Homo sapiens: one gene and its partners. The protein of the gene in region 1 purifies or fractionates together with the protein of each later gene. This does not show direct contact. Each region holds a gene or a part of one and is shown in the gene's direction. Other genes may lie near its edges.

Evidence for each region. Proteins that work in one complex are often made in the same cells at the same time.
Region 2: the proteins of ROGDI (region 1) and TUBA3C purify together in Homo sapiens (affinity purification with mass spectrometry, with the first as the bait; 3 studies listed by BioGRID). This does not show direct contact.
Region 3: the proteins of ROGDI (region 1) and WDR7 purify together in Homo sapiens (affinity purification with mass spectrometry; 4 studies listed by BioGRID and IntAct, with this or other methods). This does not show direct contact.

The regions. Positions count from the first base shown.
Region 1 is NC_000016.10:4,799,634-4,807,357, reverse strand, and holds the start of ROGDI (protein rogdi homolog), read left to right. Parts: upstream 1-4,724; 5' UTR 4,725-4,786; coding exon 4,787-4,831; intron 4,832-4,904; coding exon 4,905-4,976; intron 4,977-5,772; coding exon 5,773-5,855; intron 5,856-6,036; coding exon 6,037-6,091; intron 6,092-6,779; coding exon 6,780-6,860; intron 6,861-7,576; coding exon 7,577-7,672; intron 7,673-7,724. Other genes in the region: GLYR1 (cytokine-like nuclear factor N-PAC), read left to right, coding at 2,048-2,122.
Region 2 is NC_000013.11:19,173,272-19,178,824, reverse strand, and holds the end of TUBA3C (tubulin alpha-3C chain), read left to right. Parts: intron 1-430; coding exon 431-579; intron 580-1,217; coding exon 1,218-1,898; intron 1,899-4,665; coding exon 4,666-4,962; 3' UTR 4,963-5,053; downstream 5,054-5,553. UniProt on the Homo sapiens protein: Tubulin is the major constituent of microtubules, a cylinder consisting of laterally associated linear protofilaments composed of alpha- and beta-tubulin heterodimers.
Region 3 is NC_000018.10:57,025,359-57,030,292, forward strand, and holds the end of WDR7 (WD repeat-containing protein 7), read left to right. Parts: intron 1-1,645; coding exon 1,646-1,849; 3' UTR 1,850-4,434; downstream 4,435-4,934.

The DNA.
Region 1 (7,724 bases):
GCAGATCACCTGAGGTCAGGAGTTCGAGATCAGCCTGGCCAATATAGTGAAGCCCAGTCTCTACTAAAAATACCAAAAATTAGCCGGGCATAGTGGCGGGCACTATTAATGCCAGCTACTCCGGAGGCTGGGACAGGAGAATCACTTGAACCCAGGAGGCGGAGGTTGCAGTGAGCCGAGATCGTGCCATTGCACTCCAGCCTGGGCGACAGACCAAGACTCCGTCTCAAAAAAAAAAAAAAAAAAAAAAGGGGCCAGGCGCAGTGGCTCACGCCTGTAATCCCAGCACTTTGGGAGGCCGAGGCGGGTGGATCACGAGGTCAGGAGATCAAGACCATCCTGGCTAACAGGGTGAAACCCTGTCTCTACTAAAAATACAAAAAATTAGCCAGGCGTGGTGGCGGGCGCCTGTAGTCCCAGCTACTCGGGAGGCTGAAGCAGGAGAATGGCGTGAACCCGGGAGGCAGAGCAGAGCTGGCAGTGAGCCGAGATCACACCACTGCACTCCAGTCTGGGCGACAGAGCAAGACTCCATCTCAAAAAAAAAAAAAAGAAAAAAGAATTCCAGTTTCATTTATCTATTTTCTTTTTTACTTTGCCTCTGCATTCTTTTTTTAGTGGTTACTCTACAGATTGCGGTATAAATCCTTAAGATAGAGTTAATCTTGCCAGGCACAGTGGCTTATACTTGTGATCCTTGTAATCCTAGCACTTTGGGAGGTCGAGGCAGGGTCGAGGCAGGGTCGAGGCTTAAGCAAGCCCAGGAGTTTGAGACCAGCCTGGGCAACATAGCAAGACCCCCATCTGTACAAAAAAAAATAAAAAACTAGCTGGGCGTGGTGGCGAGCACCCTATTCCTAGCTACTTGGGAGGCTGAGGCAGGTGAGGCAGGAGGATTGCTTGAGCCCAGGAGTTCGAGGCTGCAATGAGCCATGATCCTACCACTGCACTCCAGCCTGGGCAACAGAGCAAGACCCTGTCTCAAGAAAAAAAAAAAAGACAGTTAATCTTGTACCATTTCCCATTAAATGTAAAAACTTTGCAACCACACAGAAGCATTTCTTTCCCCCTTCCTCTCCCTCATCCTTTAAGGCAGGGTTTCTCAACCTCGGCACTGCTGCCATTCTGTGTGGGGGGGCTATCCAAGCACTGCAGGATGTTGGGTAGCCCACCCACCAGACGCCAGTGACATAGCTCCTCCTCAGGTGACAGAAAATGTCTCCAGATATTACCAGATGTCCCCTGGGGGCAGAAGCACCACAGGTGTGAGAACTCTCACTCTGAGGTATAGGTGTCCTGGGTGTTTCATCTGCCCTTGTTTTATTTTTTATTCATTTATTTATTTATTTGAGACAGTTTTGCTCTTTTTTTGTTTTTGAGACAGAGTCTCGCTCTGTCACCCAGACTGGAGTGCAGTGGTGTGATCTCAGCTCACTGCAACCTCCGCCTCCCAGGTTCAAGCTATTCTCCTGCCTCAACCTCCTGAGTAGCTGGGATTACAGGCACCTGCCACCATGCCCGGCTAATTTTTTGTATTTTTTTTTTTTAAAGAAGGGGTTTCACGACGGTCACCAGGCTGGTCTTGATCTCCTGACCTCGTGATTCACCCACCTTGGCCTCCTAAAGTGCTGGGATTACAGGCATGAGCCACTGCGCCTGGCCCTAATTTTTGTATTTTTAGTAGAGATGAGGTTTCACCTTTTTGGCCTGGCTGGTCTCGAACTCCTGACTTCAGGTGATCCACCCACCTCGGCCTTACAGGCATGAGCCGCAGTGCCCGGCCAATGCTGAATGTTTTATATCCCATAGTGTATTTCATTCTCACAAGATCCCCCGGGTACTGTTCCTTCTCCCAGAGCAAGAAGCACAGTGGCTGAGGTCCAGAGAAACGGAGGTGCTTCATGCAAGGTCAACACAGGATTCCTAACCGGACAGCCTGGGCTCCAGCACTGCCTGCTGGCCACATCCACCACTGCCTCCAGGAATCAGGTCTAGGTCTTGAAGGCAGCTCTGGGGCCAGAGACTGAGCCATCTCTTTTTTTTCCAGGTGTACAAAAGAGCCAAGGCGCTGGACCAGTCTGACAACGATATGTCCGCCGTGTACCGAGCCTACATACACTAAGCTGTCGACACCCCGCCCTCACCCCTCCAATCCCCCCTCTGACCCCCTCTTCCTCACATGGGGTCGGGGGCCTGGGAGTTCATTCTGGACCAGCCCACCTATCTCCATTTCCTTTTATACAGACTTTGAGACTTGCCATCAGCACAGCACACAGCAGCACCCTTCCCCTGAGGCCGGTGGGGAGGGGACAAGTGTCAGCAGGATTGGCGTGTGGGAAAGCTCTTGAGCTGGGCACTGGCCCCCCGGACGAGGTGGCTGTGTGTTCACACACACACACACACACACACACACACACACACACAGGCTCTCGCCCCAGGATAGAAGCTGCCCAGAAACTGCTGCCTGGCTTTTTTTCTTCCGAGCTTGTCTTATCTCAAACCCCTTCCAGTCAAGGAACTAGAATCAGCAACGAGAGTTGGAAGCCTTCCCACAGCTTCCCCCAGAGCGAAGAGGCTGTAGTCATGTCCCCATCCCCCACTGGATTCCCTACAAGGAGAGGCCTTGGGCCCAGATGAGCCAGTACAGACTCCAGACAGAGGGGCCCTTGGGGCCCTCCAACCTCAGGTGATGAGCTGAGAAAGATGTTCACGTCTAAGCGTCCAGTGTGCACCCAGCGCTCCATAGACGCCTTTGTGAACTGAAAAGAGACTGGCAGAGTCCCGAGAAGATGGGGCCCTGGCTTTCCAGGGAGTGCAGCAAGCAGCCGGCCTGCAGGTGAGCATGGAGGCCCGGCCCTCACCGCCTCGAAGCCATGCCCCAGATGCCACTGCCACAGCGGGCGCTCGCTCCTCCCTAGGCTGTTTTAGTATTTGGATTTGCATTCCATCCCTTGGGAGGGAGTCCTCAGGGCCACTAGTGATGAGCCAAGAGGAGTGGGGGTTGGGGGCGCTCCTTTCTGTTTCCGTTAGGCCACAGACTCTTCACCTGGCTCTGAAGAGCCACTCTTACCTCGGTCCCCTCCCAGTGGTCCCACCTTCTCCACCCTGCCCTGCCAAGTCCCCTGCATGCCCACCGCTCTCCATCCTCCCTCCTCTCCCTCTTCCTCCCGTGGAGACAGTATTTCTTTCTGTCTGTCCCTTTGGCCCAGACCCAGCCTGACCAACGATGAGCATTTCTTAGGCTCAGCTCTTGATACGGAAACGAGTGTCTTCACTCCAGCCAGCATCATGGTCTTCGGTGCTTCCCGGGCCCGGGGTCTGTCGGGAGGGAAGAGAACTGGGCCTGACCTACCTGAACTGACTGGCCCTCCGAGGTGGGTCTGGGACATCCTAGAGGCCCTACATTTGTCCTTGGATAGGGGACCGGGGGGGGCTTGGAATGTTGCAAAAAAAAAAGTTACCCAAGGGATGTCAGTTTTTTATCCCTCTGCATGGGTTGGATTTTCCAAAATCATAATTTGCAGAAGGAAGGCCAGCATTTACGATGCAATATGTAATTATATATAGGGTGGCCACACTAGGGCGGGGTCCTTCCCCCCTCACAGCTTTGGCCCCTTTCAGAGATTAGAAACTGGGTTAGAGGATTGCAGAAGACGAGTGGGGGGAGGGCAGGGAAGATGCCTGTCGGGTTTTTAGCACAGTTCATTTCACTGGGATTTTGAAGCATTTCTGTCTGAACACAAAGCCTGTTCTAGTCCTGGCGGAACACACTGGGGGTGGGGGCGGGGGAAGATGCGGTAATGAAACCGGTTAGTCAATTTTGTCTTAATATTGTTGACAATTCTGTAAAGTTCCTTTTTATGAATATTTCTGTTTAAGCTATTTCACCTTTCTTTTGAAATCCTTCCCTTTTAAGGAGAAAATGTGACACTTGTGAAAAAGCTTGTAAGAAAGCCCCTCCCTTTTTTCTTTAAACCTTTAAATGACAAATCTAGGTAATTAAGGTTGTGAATTTTTATTTTTGCTTTGTTTTTAATGAACATTTGTCTTTCAGAATAGGATTGTGTGATAATGTTTAAATGGCAAAAACAAAACATGATTTTGTGCAATTAACAAAGCTACTGCAAGAAAAATAAAACACTTCTTGGTAACACAGCTGTGCCGCAGGAGTCCTGCTTCCCTCGTCCTCGGCGAGATGGGTGGGAGGAGAAGGCAGCGGCGGGGCCGGGGTGGGTTTTCGGGACCTCCGCGTCCGGGGTGAGACGGACTTGGGAGTGGCGGCGAGGTCCGCGGCAGGGTTGGAACCACGACCAATGGAGCCAAGCGGGCCAATAGGGAGGAGGAGCGGGGACAGACTGTCCTGCCGGCCAATGAGTGAGCGCGAGTGGAGCAGAGCGCCCTATCATATCCTGGGGGCGCCCCGGGAGCTCCGCCCCCAAGCGGGCGCCCCAGGCTGGTGCCGGCCGCGTCCCTGGCCAGCCGGAGCAAGCCTGACTCGTGCAGCCGCCGGCCGCGTCCCTGGCCAGGCGGAGCGAGCCTCACTCCCGCAGCCGCCAGTCTGGTTCCAGGGCTCCCGCAGGTTTCGGGGGCCGAGGCGGACCGACAGGCGCCAGCCAATCGCGAGCACGGAGCCGGCCTGGGGGCGGGGTGGTACCCGCTCCGCCAATCGGGTGGGGGCGGAGCCAGACGCCGGGGGCGGACGGGAGGACCGGAGGACCGAGGACAGAAAGATTGGTGGACAGGAGCAGCGGCCGGTGGGGAGGGCGCTCGGCGGCGGCCTGCGGCCATGGCCACCGTGATGGCAGCGACGGCGGCGGAGCGGGCGGTGCTGGTAAGGCGCGCGGGCCAGCGGGCGGGCCGGCGGGGCGGCGGGGCCGGGCGCGACCGCCGGGTCTGTCCCGCAGGAGGAGGAGTTCCGCTGGCTGCTGCACGACGAGGTGCACGCTGTGTTGAAGCAGCTGCAGGACATCCTCAAGGTAACGACCCGCGCCCTGCCCCGCCGGGCGTGGCGGCCCTCCCTCCTCATTTCCCTGGCTCCACCTGGGGCCGCGCGGCTGCGTCCTGAGCGCCTACAGTGTGCGGCTGCCGCGGCTTTCAGGCAGGGCCCCGCCTCCGCGAACTCGAGCCGACCTCATTATATAAGTACCTGTGTGCGGGCAGGGGCGGGTCCCGACGAGGGTGCTAGCAAGGGCCTGAGTCCCGCCCGGCCTCGGGTCGGGGAAGGCCGCCTTGGGAGCAGCGGCATCCAATCTGGGAGCCGAAGAATTCTGCCTCTGCCTGGCAGTGTGACTTCAGCCAAGTCACTGAACCTCCCTGGGCCTCCCTTTTCTCATTGGCAAAAGGGAGATAACAGTACCCGCTTCGCGAGGCTGGGGTGTAGATAAATGAGCCAGGCAGCTCACAGAAGTAACCGGCGTAGTGCTTGCTGTGGCCCAGGACCGCGGGTTACCATAACTACTGCCTTGTTCCCTGACTCTGCCCCTTGCCCCTTTCCCCCTCAACCAAGCTGGGAGGCTGCCCCTGTCTGTTTTGTATTCCCCGAGGCGGGCACACAGGAGGTGTTCAGGGAATGTGGTATAAGCAGAGATCGGGCTCACGGTTAGGTGCCCTGGGGGCTTGGGCAGGGTCTTCCCACCCCAGCTGAACCCAGGTGAGGCCAGGCCACGTTGTTCCTTCCCCCCGCTGACTTGGAGGGAGGGGGGCTTCTGGAAGGAGCACTGGGCCGGGCCTGAGTGGGCGCTACCAGCTCCCCTCCTTCCCTCTGTTCCACAGGAGGCCTCTCTGCGCTTCACTCTGCCGGGCTCCGGCACTGAGGGGCCCGCCAAGCAAGAGAACTTCATCCTAGGCAGCTGTGGGTGAGCCTGGGCTAGGCGGAAACCGGGGAAATGGGTACCTTGGGGGGTAGGAGGCATGGCCATAGCCCTGTCCTGCAGACCAGCTGGTTGTGCGATGGGACAGGAGGGGCAGCCCGCCGGGAGGGAGGGCTGGGTGGTGGGGGGGTGACCACAGGCACCGCTCTGACGCCACATGTTACAGCACAGACCAGGTGAAGGGTGTGCTGACTCTGCAGGGGGATGCCCTCAGCCAGGCGGTGAGTCCCCCGGCCCTGTCCCCTCCCATCCTGCCAATGGGGAAGAGCATGGGAGCTCCCACTTTCTCTCTGTACAAGCCCTGCGACTCTGGGCGGGACCCTTGATCTCTCTGGCCTCAGTTTTCTCCTTTGGAAAATGACAGCAACCCTCACACCTTCTCCCGGGATCGGTGTGCAGATTCAGTAAGAGGTGCAGGAGAGGGGTTCTTTGCACACGGCCTGGCCTGGCGTCCGGACCAGTGAAACATGGGCATTGGTGGATTAGGCTGGCCACACATCACAGTTGAATCAGCCAATGCCTGAACTCCAGTCTGCACCCGACTCTGTGCCAGGCACCAAGGCGTGGGGGGAGGCCCCCCTCCTGGGCTCCATCTGTTGCCCTTTGTAGACACTAGATGCACCCCGTTCGCACAGAGCCTCACAGAGGCTGCCTTTCCTCTTCCCCTTCCCCTTTCTTCACCTCTTTCCATTTCACTTCTTTGTGGCTCTTCTTGGGCCTGGTTTCCTGTTTCCTGACCTCCCTGTTCAACCCCCAAACGGCCAAGGCATTGGGAGACCCTCTGCCCTATACAGCGGCCAAGGCCTGAACCACCACACACCCCATTTCTGCCCTGGGCTTAAGGGCTCAGAGTGGCTGTGGCAGGAGGTGCCCCCCCACTGCCCAGCTCACCCCACTCTTGCCTGTCAGGATGTGAACCTGAAGATGCCCCGGAACAACCAGCTGCTGCACTTCGCCTTCCGGGAGGACAAGCAGTGGAAGCTGCAGCAGGTGACCCCGCCCCTCCTGGCTAGTGCTCAGCCACAAGGACAGGCGGCAGCAGGCCTGCCGCGGGGCCTCCCTGGAGAGGGACTAGCCCTGGGGATCTGTGGCCACAGCAAGCCTGGGAGGGTGTTTCCTAACAGCAAAGCTGGGGGCAGGCGTTTCCTGAAGCCCTGGAGGCTGCGCCATGTGGGGAGGTAGAGAACCTGGCCTGAGAGCCCCGAGGGCCACATCGGGACTGTGGAGTCCCCACAGCAGCTGGCTGGATGAGATGGTTCAGAAGCCCTCTGAAAAGTCACTCCCTTGCCCAGAGCCTCCAGGGACTTGCCATGGCTCTGGGGATGAGGCCCATGCTCCCTGGCAGCTCCTGTACCAATGGGCCCCAGCCTCCTCCCCTGCCCCCTCCACCCCGACTGTCTCCATCTCAGCACCCTTGCCCCTGCCTTGTCGCCCTGTTTGCTTCCCTCCGCAACTCGCACAGACTCTTGTCTTGGGCATTACTGTGTGTCCATCCCTTAGAAAGGAGGGGGCAGTCAGCTTGGGCAGAGACCAGGCCTGCCCCAGGTGATGCCAGATGCCCATCACCTGGCGTGGACCTGGCCCTCTGGGGCACAGGGATGACAGTGTGGAGAGTGGAATGACGTGGGGCAGGCAGGCAGCACCCACTCTCCCCTCCTGGCCGCATGGAAGCTGGCGTGACCCCTCTGGATGACCCCTGCTTCCAGATCCAGGATGCCAGAAACCATGTGAGCCAAGCCATTTACCTGCTTACCAGCCGGGACCAGAGCTACCAGTTCAAGACGGGCGCTGAGGTCCTCAAGGTGAGCTGCCCCCGGGCCTGACTCCTGGGCCTAGTCCCACGTTCTTGATCCG
Region 2 (5,553 bases), on another chromosome or scaffold:
CACACAGGGTGCCCTGATGGGACTGCCCTGCAGAAGTCACACTGACCTGGTGACTTCTCAGTTTGTAAGCATTTTTAACTTACAGCCTTCGATGTAGCTACATGTAGGAAAGAATTATGTACCTGTAGAATTACCTGTGTGGGGGTGCTGGAGCTTATTTCCCTTCACTGGGAGCTGGTCGTGCTGACATTTATATTGTAAGCTGAGTTTCACTTCCTAGAGTCATAAATCACAGTTTGGTTATCACACATTTGCACTTTGGTTATCACACAGAGACATTTTCTACCAGACACTGCCACTGTTGACCTACAACATGTAGGTCATGTACTTTGAACAGCATGTACTTTGTAGAAGTGAACAGTCCTGGAATGTGTCCATCTTGGTGAGTATAGGCCTTAAAGATTCACAGTACATACGGTCTCTTTTGTAGATGAAGTGCGCACAGGAACCTATAGGCAGCTCTTCCACCCAGAGCAGCTGATCACCGGGAAGGAAGATGCGGCCAATAATTACGCCAGAGGCCATTACACCATCGGCAAGGAGATCGTCGACCTGGTCCTGGACCGGATCCGCAAACTGGTAAGAAGAGAAGGCTTCATGTGACCATTGTCCTGCACAGGAGGGTAGATCTTAGATTGTGAAGGGGAGGTCATTTTGTCAAAACCTAGACCAGTGCGTTGGCTGGGTCTGGTGGCTCACGCCTGTAATCCCAACACTTTGGGAGGCCAAGGTGGGCAGTCACCTGAAGTCAAGAGTTTGAGACCAGCCTGGCCAACGTGGTGAAACCCTGTCTTTACTAAAAATACACACATTAGTCAGGCGTGGTGGTGCCTGCCTGTAGTCCCAGCTACTCAGGAAGCTGAGGCAGGAGAATGGCTTGAGCCCGGGAGGCAGAGGTTGCACTGAGCGGAGTTCATGCCACTGCCCTCCGGCCTGGGCAACAGAGTGAGATTCTATCTAAAAAAAAAAAAAAAAAAACAACTTAGAACAGTATCTTGAGTCCTATTGCGTCTGCAATGGTCTTAGTCTGAAGTATGCATGGTGATTTGTCTGTAGATCTTTGTCTGCTTTTCTTTGCTTCAGAGTGTACTGCGTGTTTATTATGGATGATTGGAATCCATATCAAGTCTTCAGAGGCAGAGAAGTGGCCCTGGCTTGGTGGAGGTTGGTGGTGTGGCTTCCACGGGCATTGATTCATGTTGTCTGGTTTCCCTCAGGCGGATCTGTGCACGGGACTGCAGGGCTTCCTCATCTTCCACAGTTTTGGGGGTGGCACTGGCTCTGGGTTCGCATCTCTGCTCATGGAGCGGCTCTCAGTGGATTACGGCAAGAAGTCCAAGCTAGAATTTGCCATTTACCCAGCCCCCCAGGTCTCCACGGCCGTGGTGGAGCCCTACAACTCCATCCTGACCACCCACACGACCCTGGAACATTCTGACTGTGCCTTCATGGTCGACAATGAAGCCATCTATGACATATGTCGGCGCAACCTGGACATCGAGCGTCCCACGTACACCAACCTCAATCGCCTGATTGGGCAGATCGTGTCCTCCATCACGGCCTCCCTGCGATTTGACGGGGCCCTGAATGTGGACTTGACGGAATTCCAGACCAACCTAGTGCCGTACCCCCGCATCCACTTCCCCCTGGCCACCTACGCCCCGGTCATCTCAGCCGAGAAGGCCTACCACGAGCAGCTGTCCGTGGCTGAGATCACCAATGCCTGCTTCGAGCCAGCCAATCAGATGGTCAAGTGTGACCCTCGCCACGGCAAGTACATGGCCTGCTGCATGTTGTACAGGGGGGATGTGGTCCCGAAAGATGTCAACGCGGCCATCGCCACCATCAAGACCAAGCGCACCATCCAGTTTGTAGATTGGTGCCCAACTGGATTTAAGGTATGACTGGGTAATGTGGAGTCCTTGTACCTTTCAGCAAGCAACAGACACACAGAGTAATGCTGCCCCTGAAGGCCCACATCCTTTGAGGATACTACCCCTATTCCATGGGCTAGGCATGTGGGCATCAATTAGTGAACCAGAGTGATCATTAATTCAGTGATGTCTTTTTTTTTTTTTTTTTTTTTTTTTTTTTTTTTTGAGGCAGAGTCTAGCTTTGTCGCCCAGGCTGGAGTAAAGTGGTGTGATCTCAGCTCACTGCAATCTCCATCAGCCTCCCAAGTAGCTGGAATTACAGGCACCCACCACCACACCCAGTTAATTTTTATATTTTTAGTAGAAACAGGGTTATGCCATGTTGGCCAGGCTGGTCTTGAACTCCTGACCTCAGGTGAGCCACCCACCTTGGCCACCCAAAGTGCTGGGGTTAGAGGCGTGAGCCACTGTGCCTGGCCCAGTGATGTCTTTTGAACTCTTTCTAAGTCATTACACTATGTATCTGTGATGAGCTTTACTTACTTACTTTGTTGTTGAGAAGGCTGGAGTGCAGTGGTGTGATCTCGGTTCACTGCAACCTCTGCTTCCCAGGCTCAAGTGATTCTCTCACCTCAGCCTCCTGAGTAGCTGGGACCACAGACATGCACCACTACACCCAGCTAATTTTTGTGTATTTAGTAAAGGGATTTCACCATGTTGGCCAAGCTGGTCTCAAATTCCTGGTCTTAAGTGATCTGCTTGTCTTAGCCTCCCAAAATGTTGGGATTACGGGCATGAGCCACTGTGCTCAACCCTATTTATTTACTTTTTTGAGACAGAATCCCACCTGTCACCCAGGCTGGAGTGCAGTGTGGTGATCACAGCTCTCCACTAAAAATACAAAAATTGGATGGGCATGGTGGCCCATGCCTATAATCCAGCACTTTGGGAGGCCAAGGCAGGCGGATCACCTGAGGTCAGGAGTTTGACACCAGCCTGGCCAACAGGGCAAAATCCCGTGTCTACTAAAAATACAAAAATTAGCCGGGTATGGTGGCGGGCACCTGTAATCCCAGCTACTGAGGAGGCTGAGGCAGGAGAATCACTGGGACCCAGGAGGTGGAGGTTGCAGTGAGAAGATATCACTCCACTGCACTCCAGCCTGGGTGACAGCACAAGACTCTGTCTCAAAAAAAGAAAAAAAGACAAGATCATACAAATTCTAGGCCTTACAGGTTACACGACCTCTGTCACACCTACCCCACTCTGCTGTCGGATAGCAAAATCAATCTGCAAATGAAGGGGTGTGGTGGCTGTGTTCAGACAAGATCTTACAAAATTAGGTGGCTAGTCCAGCAGCTGTGCTAACCCCTGAAGGAGAAGAAGAGACACCCACAGTAGGAAATCCCAGTCAGAACTGACTGCAGTGGTCTCCCCCAACAGAGACGGTGGGGGTCTGAGCCAGAGGCAGCAGGGAAAGCACAGCACAAGAACGCACAGGCCCAACAGAGAAATGCCACAAGATTTAGTAACCAACTATTGATAAAGCTGAAAGAGGACAGCAAGGTTTCTTTTGTGTCAGTGGAAGGTGGGGACAGATTTTGTGTCTGAGGCAAACCCAGGCCAAAATTACTAGGCTTCCCGGAAAAGAAATAAAGACGTTGCTGCTTTTTGTTTTGTTTTGTTTTGTTTTGTTTTTGAGACGGAGTCTTGCTGTGTCGCCCAGGCTGGAGTGCAGTGGCGTGATCTTGGCTCACTGCAAGCTCCGCCTCCTGGGTTCATGCCATTCTCCCGCCTCAGCCTCCCGAGTAGCTGGGACTACAGGCGCCCGCCACCACACCCGGCTAATTTTGTTTTTGTATTTTTAGTAGAGACCGGGTTTCACCATGTTAGCTAGGATGGTCTCGATCTCCTGACCTCGTGATCTGTCCACCTCGGCCTGCCAAAGTGCTGGGATTACAGGTGTGGGTCACCGTGCCCGGCCTTTTAATTTTTTTGAGACAGGGTCTTGCTCTGTCACCCAAGGAGTGGTAGGATCTCAGCTCATTGGAACCTCTGCCCTCCAGGCTCAAGCAATCCTCCCACCTCAGCCTCCTGAGTAGCTGGGACCACAGGTGCATGACACCATGCCCAGCTAATTTTTTTGTATTTTTGGTAGAGACAGGGTCTTGCCATACTGCCCAGGCTGGTCTCAAACTCAGTTCAAGAAATCCACCTTGGCCTCCCAAAGAGCTGGGATAATGGGTGTGAGCCACTGCACCTGTTGCTGTTTTCATCACAAACAACTCATTCTTTTTTTAAATCAAACCCTACATGAGACAGTGGAACGAATGATGTTGTGAAGCAGTTTATAGTAATGCCCAAGTTAAAATAAAATATATACACCACCTACAAGATTCCCCAAAATGCCCATAAAATTACTAAGTTCAACCTACCTTTTCCACATGAATTCTACCACCCAAGAAAGGGGCACAAAAATCCTTTAGAAAATACCTTATTCTTAAAAAAAAAAAAAAATGCTGGGCATGCTGCCTCATGACTGTAATCCTAGCACTTTGGGAGGCTGGGGTGGGTGGATCGATTGGGCCCAGGAGTTTGAGGCCAGCCTGGGCAACATATGTTGTCTGGAACTGTCACCCTGCCTGGCACAGAGAAGGGCTTAGTGACATTTGTGGGGTGAACTGAGAATTCTCCTGTTCACCTACAGGGTGTCTTCTTTTTGAGGAAAAGCAGCCACCATTTCCAGGTTTGATATAAGCTTCATGGACTGTTTCTTCCTCTTCTCCGGCAGGTGGGCATTAACTACCAGCCCCCCACGGTGGTCCCTGGGGGAGACCTGGCCAAGGTGCAGCGGGCTGTGTGCATGCTGAGCAACACCACGGCCATCGCGGAGGCCTGGGCTCGCCTGGACCATAAGTTCGATCTCATGTATGCCAAGCGGGCCTTTGTGCACTGGTACGTGGGAGAAGGCATGGAGGAGGGGGAGTTCTCTGAGGCCCGCGAGGACCTGGCAGCTCTGGAGAAGGATTATGAAGAGGTGGGCGTGGATTCCGTGGAAGCCGAGGCTGAAGAAGGTGAAGAATACTGAGGGGAGGGTGTGGTGGGTTCTCCACTCCACTGCCACCCCCAGCGTGGCTGCTTTCAAGTTCTTTGCAATTAAAGGTTCTGTATAAAACCAAGACCTCTGTGTATCGTACTGCCTAGCTTTGCCTGCAGGAGCAGGTGGGACCCCCAGAGCCTGCATGGACAGTGGTGGGGTGCCAGCCTGCCCTGCTAGCATGGAGTTGGGTGCAGCGGGATGGTACATACTTAAGGAGCTGCCACAGAAGTAACTTGACACGGAGAAATAGATTTCCTAAATTCTAGGAAAGCACAGTCAGGGTTTTCAACTGAATTTGCAACTTTGGGGGCTTTTCTATTGATGGGTGATGCGAGCTACAAAGAAGAGTCTAGACATGGAGTGTTTAAATCTGAGGTCTGTGGATGGGGCTTGTCCATGAAATCCCTAAAGCTGTGGGTCAAATGTGTAAGGTCAGGACATTTTAGAAGGGAAAGAGTGTTACTGTGTTCTGCACAGCATTCGTGACCCATAGAAGGTTACAACACACCCAGCCTTCCACAGTAACCTGGAAGACAGCATTTGCCCTCCGTGCACACACACGGCCACTCTGCCCCTCAG
Region 3 (4,934 bases), on another chromosome or scaffold:
ATTAAGCTCATCATCATTATTTATATTTTAACTATTTGGGAACATCCAAGAAAGCAATAAGGCATTGATTTTTATCTTCTGTGAAGTTTTTGGGAAAAGGAGAGAAGGAAGCAAAGAAACACGCTTCTGAAAGGGTGACAGTAAGGAACTGCCTGGCTGGAAACAGGAACCGAACTTTAACAGAAAGAGTTAACAATAACCATACATTTGGTTTTAAAATGTGACCTCGTACACTAGTGATTTTTTTTCACCTCTGTGTTGTGTTCAGCGCTATTATTAATGCAGGAAAATCAGTAACATTAGTCATCTTAAAAGGGTTATTACTCAAGATGATTTAAATTGTGAAAATGTCAGTGGAGCCTGCACACACTCTGCTAGAGATGCCATGATTTACGCCCTCTGACACCATCCTGCTGCTGAGAAGGGCTAGAAAAAGGAATGGCTTGTGTTTTGCACTGATCCACATGCAGGGGATGATGTCAGTGATAACGCATCTTAAATGTCCTAGGATTTGCCAGAGTTTCATGGATCAACCATTTGTAGATGTTGGATCATAATCTGCATGCTTCATGCAAATCTCTAGAATCTTACATCGAGATGGAGGTTATACTGGAGAGAAGCATTGGAAATGAAAATTAGTACAAAGAAAAAGTGTTATTTCCAAGGCTTCTTTCCAGATTTTCAGTATTCTTTCCATGTGATATTATAATAGCACACATAATGCTATTGAAGATATTTTAAGTAATATTTAGAATCTAAAGAAATCTTCAGACTCAGTTGCTTAGGAAACAGTTCACTTAGACAGCTACCATTCAGTATTTAGTACTTCAACCTGAATGCATAGTTGTTCATGATTCATAATTTCCATGTTGTTTTTCATTTATGTGGCTGGATTAAGAAAACCTAAAATTTAAATCCAGAAAAACTGCCAAAAAGCAGAAGTTATCAATTGATAAAAAGGTATTGTCAATAAAATATTAACAGCAGACTCTCCTTAGTATGATAGCAAAACAGTGAGGCACAGACATAGTGTTGAGATGAAATTGATTCTGGTTCTGCACTTTATAATAAGCAAGAGCTTTCCAGAAAGCGAGTTTTTAAAAAGCAAGTGAAGAGTGAAGGTATTAGTAGGTGGGAAATGGGGGTGGAAGGGAGTCTTGAGCTTTATTTGATCCAATTGTCACTCTATCTACTGCTTAACTTTGCTTCCTTTTCTTGAACTAATTACAAATCCCAAAACTTGTCTTCGCTGACTCATCCTTCAGGGAGTGAGTGCAGTTAGCATTGTGGTAAAGAACATGAAAGTCTTCAGTTTTAAATATCCACAATTTCCAAATATCTGTGTTGTCTAAATGAACCATTTTATTAAGAGGTATAATTTAGCCCTCTTCCTAAAGATCCATGGACTCTCCTTTTGTCAGGTTCTACCCCTATAAAATTCCTCTAGATTTCTGCATTTACCATAACAGCATCGGAACAATTCCAAGCACACTGAAAGGAACTTTTGAGAGGTTAAGAACAAGCTTAGGTGAAGGAGAATAACCATGATGGAGGGGAAAGTAGCCAGGAGAGATCGACCCAGTCTCTGTGATAGGGAAAGGGAGAGGGCTGTTCAAGTGACACATGTGCTCTCCTGTCCCTCCAGATGAACACGTCACTGCTGGGAAGCATCGGCATGCTGAACTCGGCACCTCAGCTGCGCTGCATTAAAACCTACCAGGTGCCCCCTGTGCAGCCCGCGTCCCCCGGCTCCCACAATGCCCTCAAGCTGGCCCGGCTCATCTGGACTTCCAACCGCAACGTCATCCTCATGGCCCATGACGGGAAGGAGCACCGCTTCATGGTCTAATGCTGCTGCCTGCCGCCGTGACTGCGTTTTAGTTCTCTAAATTATCCAAGCCGATGTTGCTCTGTCCTTCCTCACACCAGATTGTTCCCAGGGGCCTGCCCACCCCAGTGCCATCCAGTGGCACGGCCGGGTCTTGTCACTTGTGCATGCTTCTCAGGGGCAGAACCCGCTCGTGCCATCTGTCGATTCAGAGGCACGCACACATGCTCTGCAGGATGTGGCCATCCTGTCACCAGGTAGTTTTTCCCTGCCAGAGATGGCAGGGGAAAGCCAGTGGTTCCTGGGAACGCTCTTGTTGCTTGGTGCAACAGAAGCACAAAAATCAATAAACACTGTGATTGCACTCCCAGCCCAGATCAGCATTTTTAGCCATCTCAACCGCACCTCTGAAGTGCTGCTTGAATCTGGCCGTTCTGACACTGGGTGTTGAGGTCATGTGGCAGTCCTCACGATTGAAATTATTGCCCTTTGAATTACCTAAAATATTGTTTACCAAAAAGATTCTGTGTTTACATGTTCTTTTCTTCTGGTGATTGCTAGGAAATTACTCAATCCAATTTCCTAGGGTTTAGCTACCACCTTCTTTATCAACAGCTAACCAATTTGAGATTCATGATTAATTATGTACACAAAAATATTTTCCTTGTAGAAAATAGTTTTCCAGACACTTAGCCTTCTGAAGTGCTCATCTCTTGCTTAAATGATAGTCTATTTAGTAGTTTAAAATAAAAATAATCACTCCCTATGATCTAGTTAATGTAATTATCCAGTCACTGTAACTAATCTCTTGAAGGGACTTTTGTGATAAAGAGCCAAGTTCAGAAGCATAGCGTGTACCGAAAATGAAGACTCTCCTATCTACTGCTACAGATCCTGTTGAAGAAAGAGCTTACCCCTTTCCCCCGGAAAACTTGCAATCCTGTAGTTCCCATATGTGTGGCATATGTCAGTTATGAAATTATTATAATTCAGCCTTCAAACTACTACTGATCAACTAAAGGAAAGCTAATAAGGTATTTCTTTTAAACAAGTATTCTGGAAAAGTAATAACTATGGCACAAATGTTCAGGAGTGTATATAAAAATATGTGGGCTCTCGATTTATTTGAGCAAACATTGCAATGAGGGTGTTCATTATGCTTCTAAGTAAGCTTTAACTAGACCACTTTCTTCTTATGTCAGATTGTGCTGGTTCTAGCTCATAATAATGAAAAAAATAGAATTATATTTTGTATGAATTGTTTCTAACAAACCTTGATCTGTATATACTTGTGAGGGGTTGTTTGGTTGCCTAATTGTTGATTGGTTGGTTAGTTGGGCAAAATCATTTATTACATGCAAAAATAGAAAATTATTTGTTAAATTCAGAGAAAATATGTGAAGTTTACAAAGGAACCAAAATGATAATGGGAGAATTTAGTCTTAAAAGTTTAGGTTGTCAGAGTTTATCTGATATACAAAAAAGTAGGATCAAAGTCTAGGAACAAACATTGGTTATTTCACTGAAACAGATTTTTAAAGAGCATATTAAGAAATTAAGACCATTAGATCATCTCTTTCATAATGATATGATGTTATTTCCATTGACGGCAAATCTATACTGTTCCTTGGTTTTAGAGTTGGGTATTCTTTCAAAAGTGAATTTAGGCACATGCATGTACATTGTATTTATAAAGATTATATATGTAGTTTCCAAGGAAGAAACAAAGACCTATACAGTTTAGACTTTATTTGTTTGGTGAACGTGCTGTTGTGTTTGGCATAGCTAGAGAAATGTAAGGTAAAAGGCTCACTTTGTTTTCCAGTGGGTCCAGAGTCTTCTCTATACCCAACATATGTTTACTTTATGAACTTAAATGGAAATTAATTTATTGTAGACTACATCTCTATTTGGAATGATGAGGTAAATGTATACCTTAGCATTTTCTTTAACAAAAATGTTCTGTGTGTCAGGAAAGAGGTGTGAGAGTGGTAGGCAGCCTGCCGCAAACACACGGATGGCTCCCCCCGCCACGAAGGTTGAGAACAAAGCCAGGGGGCCCAGAGGAGCAATAGCCCTGGGCCACAAGCGTGGGTAGGCCTTTCACGTATTCCGTCTGCACAGGCAACCAAGGCCAGTAGAAAGCTATGGCTGCAAAACCCTGGGGTGGACGATGTTTGATGATTAGACGGTCATCTCTAACTACTAAACTAATATCTGCATTCTTGTTAACATAAATCTCTCCTTGGCTATTTTAATAGCCACAGTCCCAAACTTCATCCCAGCTTAGATTTCTCAGCACTGAGGTAAACTCTGCATTGTCATCCCAGCGTACACCTTTAATGTTTTATTGATTTCACTGGCACTGTATTTGGACCTGTCCTTGTATATGTAGAGACATATGTGGCTTCATTGGTAATTTACAAGCAAAAGATGACATGACGTGACACCTGTATGAAAATGTGATGATTGAACTCCCTGTGTACAGCGAGTGAATTAAAATGTCTGCCTCTCCAGACATTTCTTAATGATTCCACTTAATAGACTCTATGTGTGCTGAATGTTCCTGTGTACATATGTGTGTTAAATAAAACAATTGTATTGAAGACTGTTTTTCTCACAATATTACCTTTTCCAGTGTTCACTCATCTTAAACATCCTCAGTTGAAATCCGTATGCTCCGCTAGCCCTGCTGCTTCTAATCATTCATTTCCCTGGAGAGCTGGCTTGGGAAAGGCAACTTATTCCCAGAGGACAGTAGAGCAGAAGTGCAGAGGTAAGCTCTCCCTCCAGAAACTCACTGGCACTCTCTGTGGTTTGGGAAAGGCGTTGCATGCCTGTTGCTTTATCTCTACTCTACATGCTCCCAAATAGACTGGTAATGGCACCAAATCATATCTTGTCAGATTGGATGGCATGGGTTGGCTGCCTCTCGGGAGCTAGGCTGAGATCATCAAGTTCATTGCATTTCACGCTCAGTTTGGAGTCGAATTTGAATCCCTCAGGTAAAGGGTATAATTGGTTTTCAGAAAAATCAAGAATAATAAAATAGGTCCTTACTGCTCATAGAGGGTTATGTGTAAGTAGTGAATGTACTTCTTGTCTC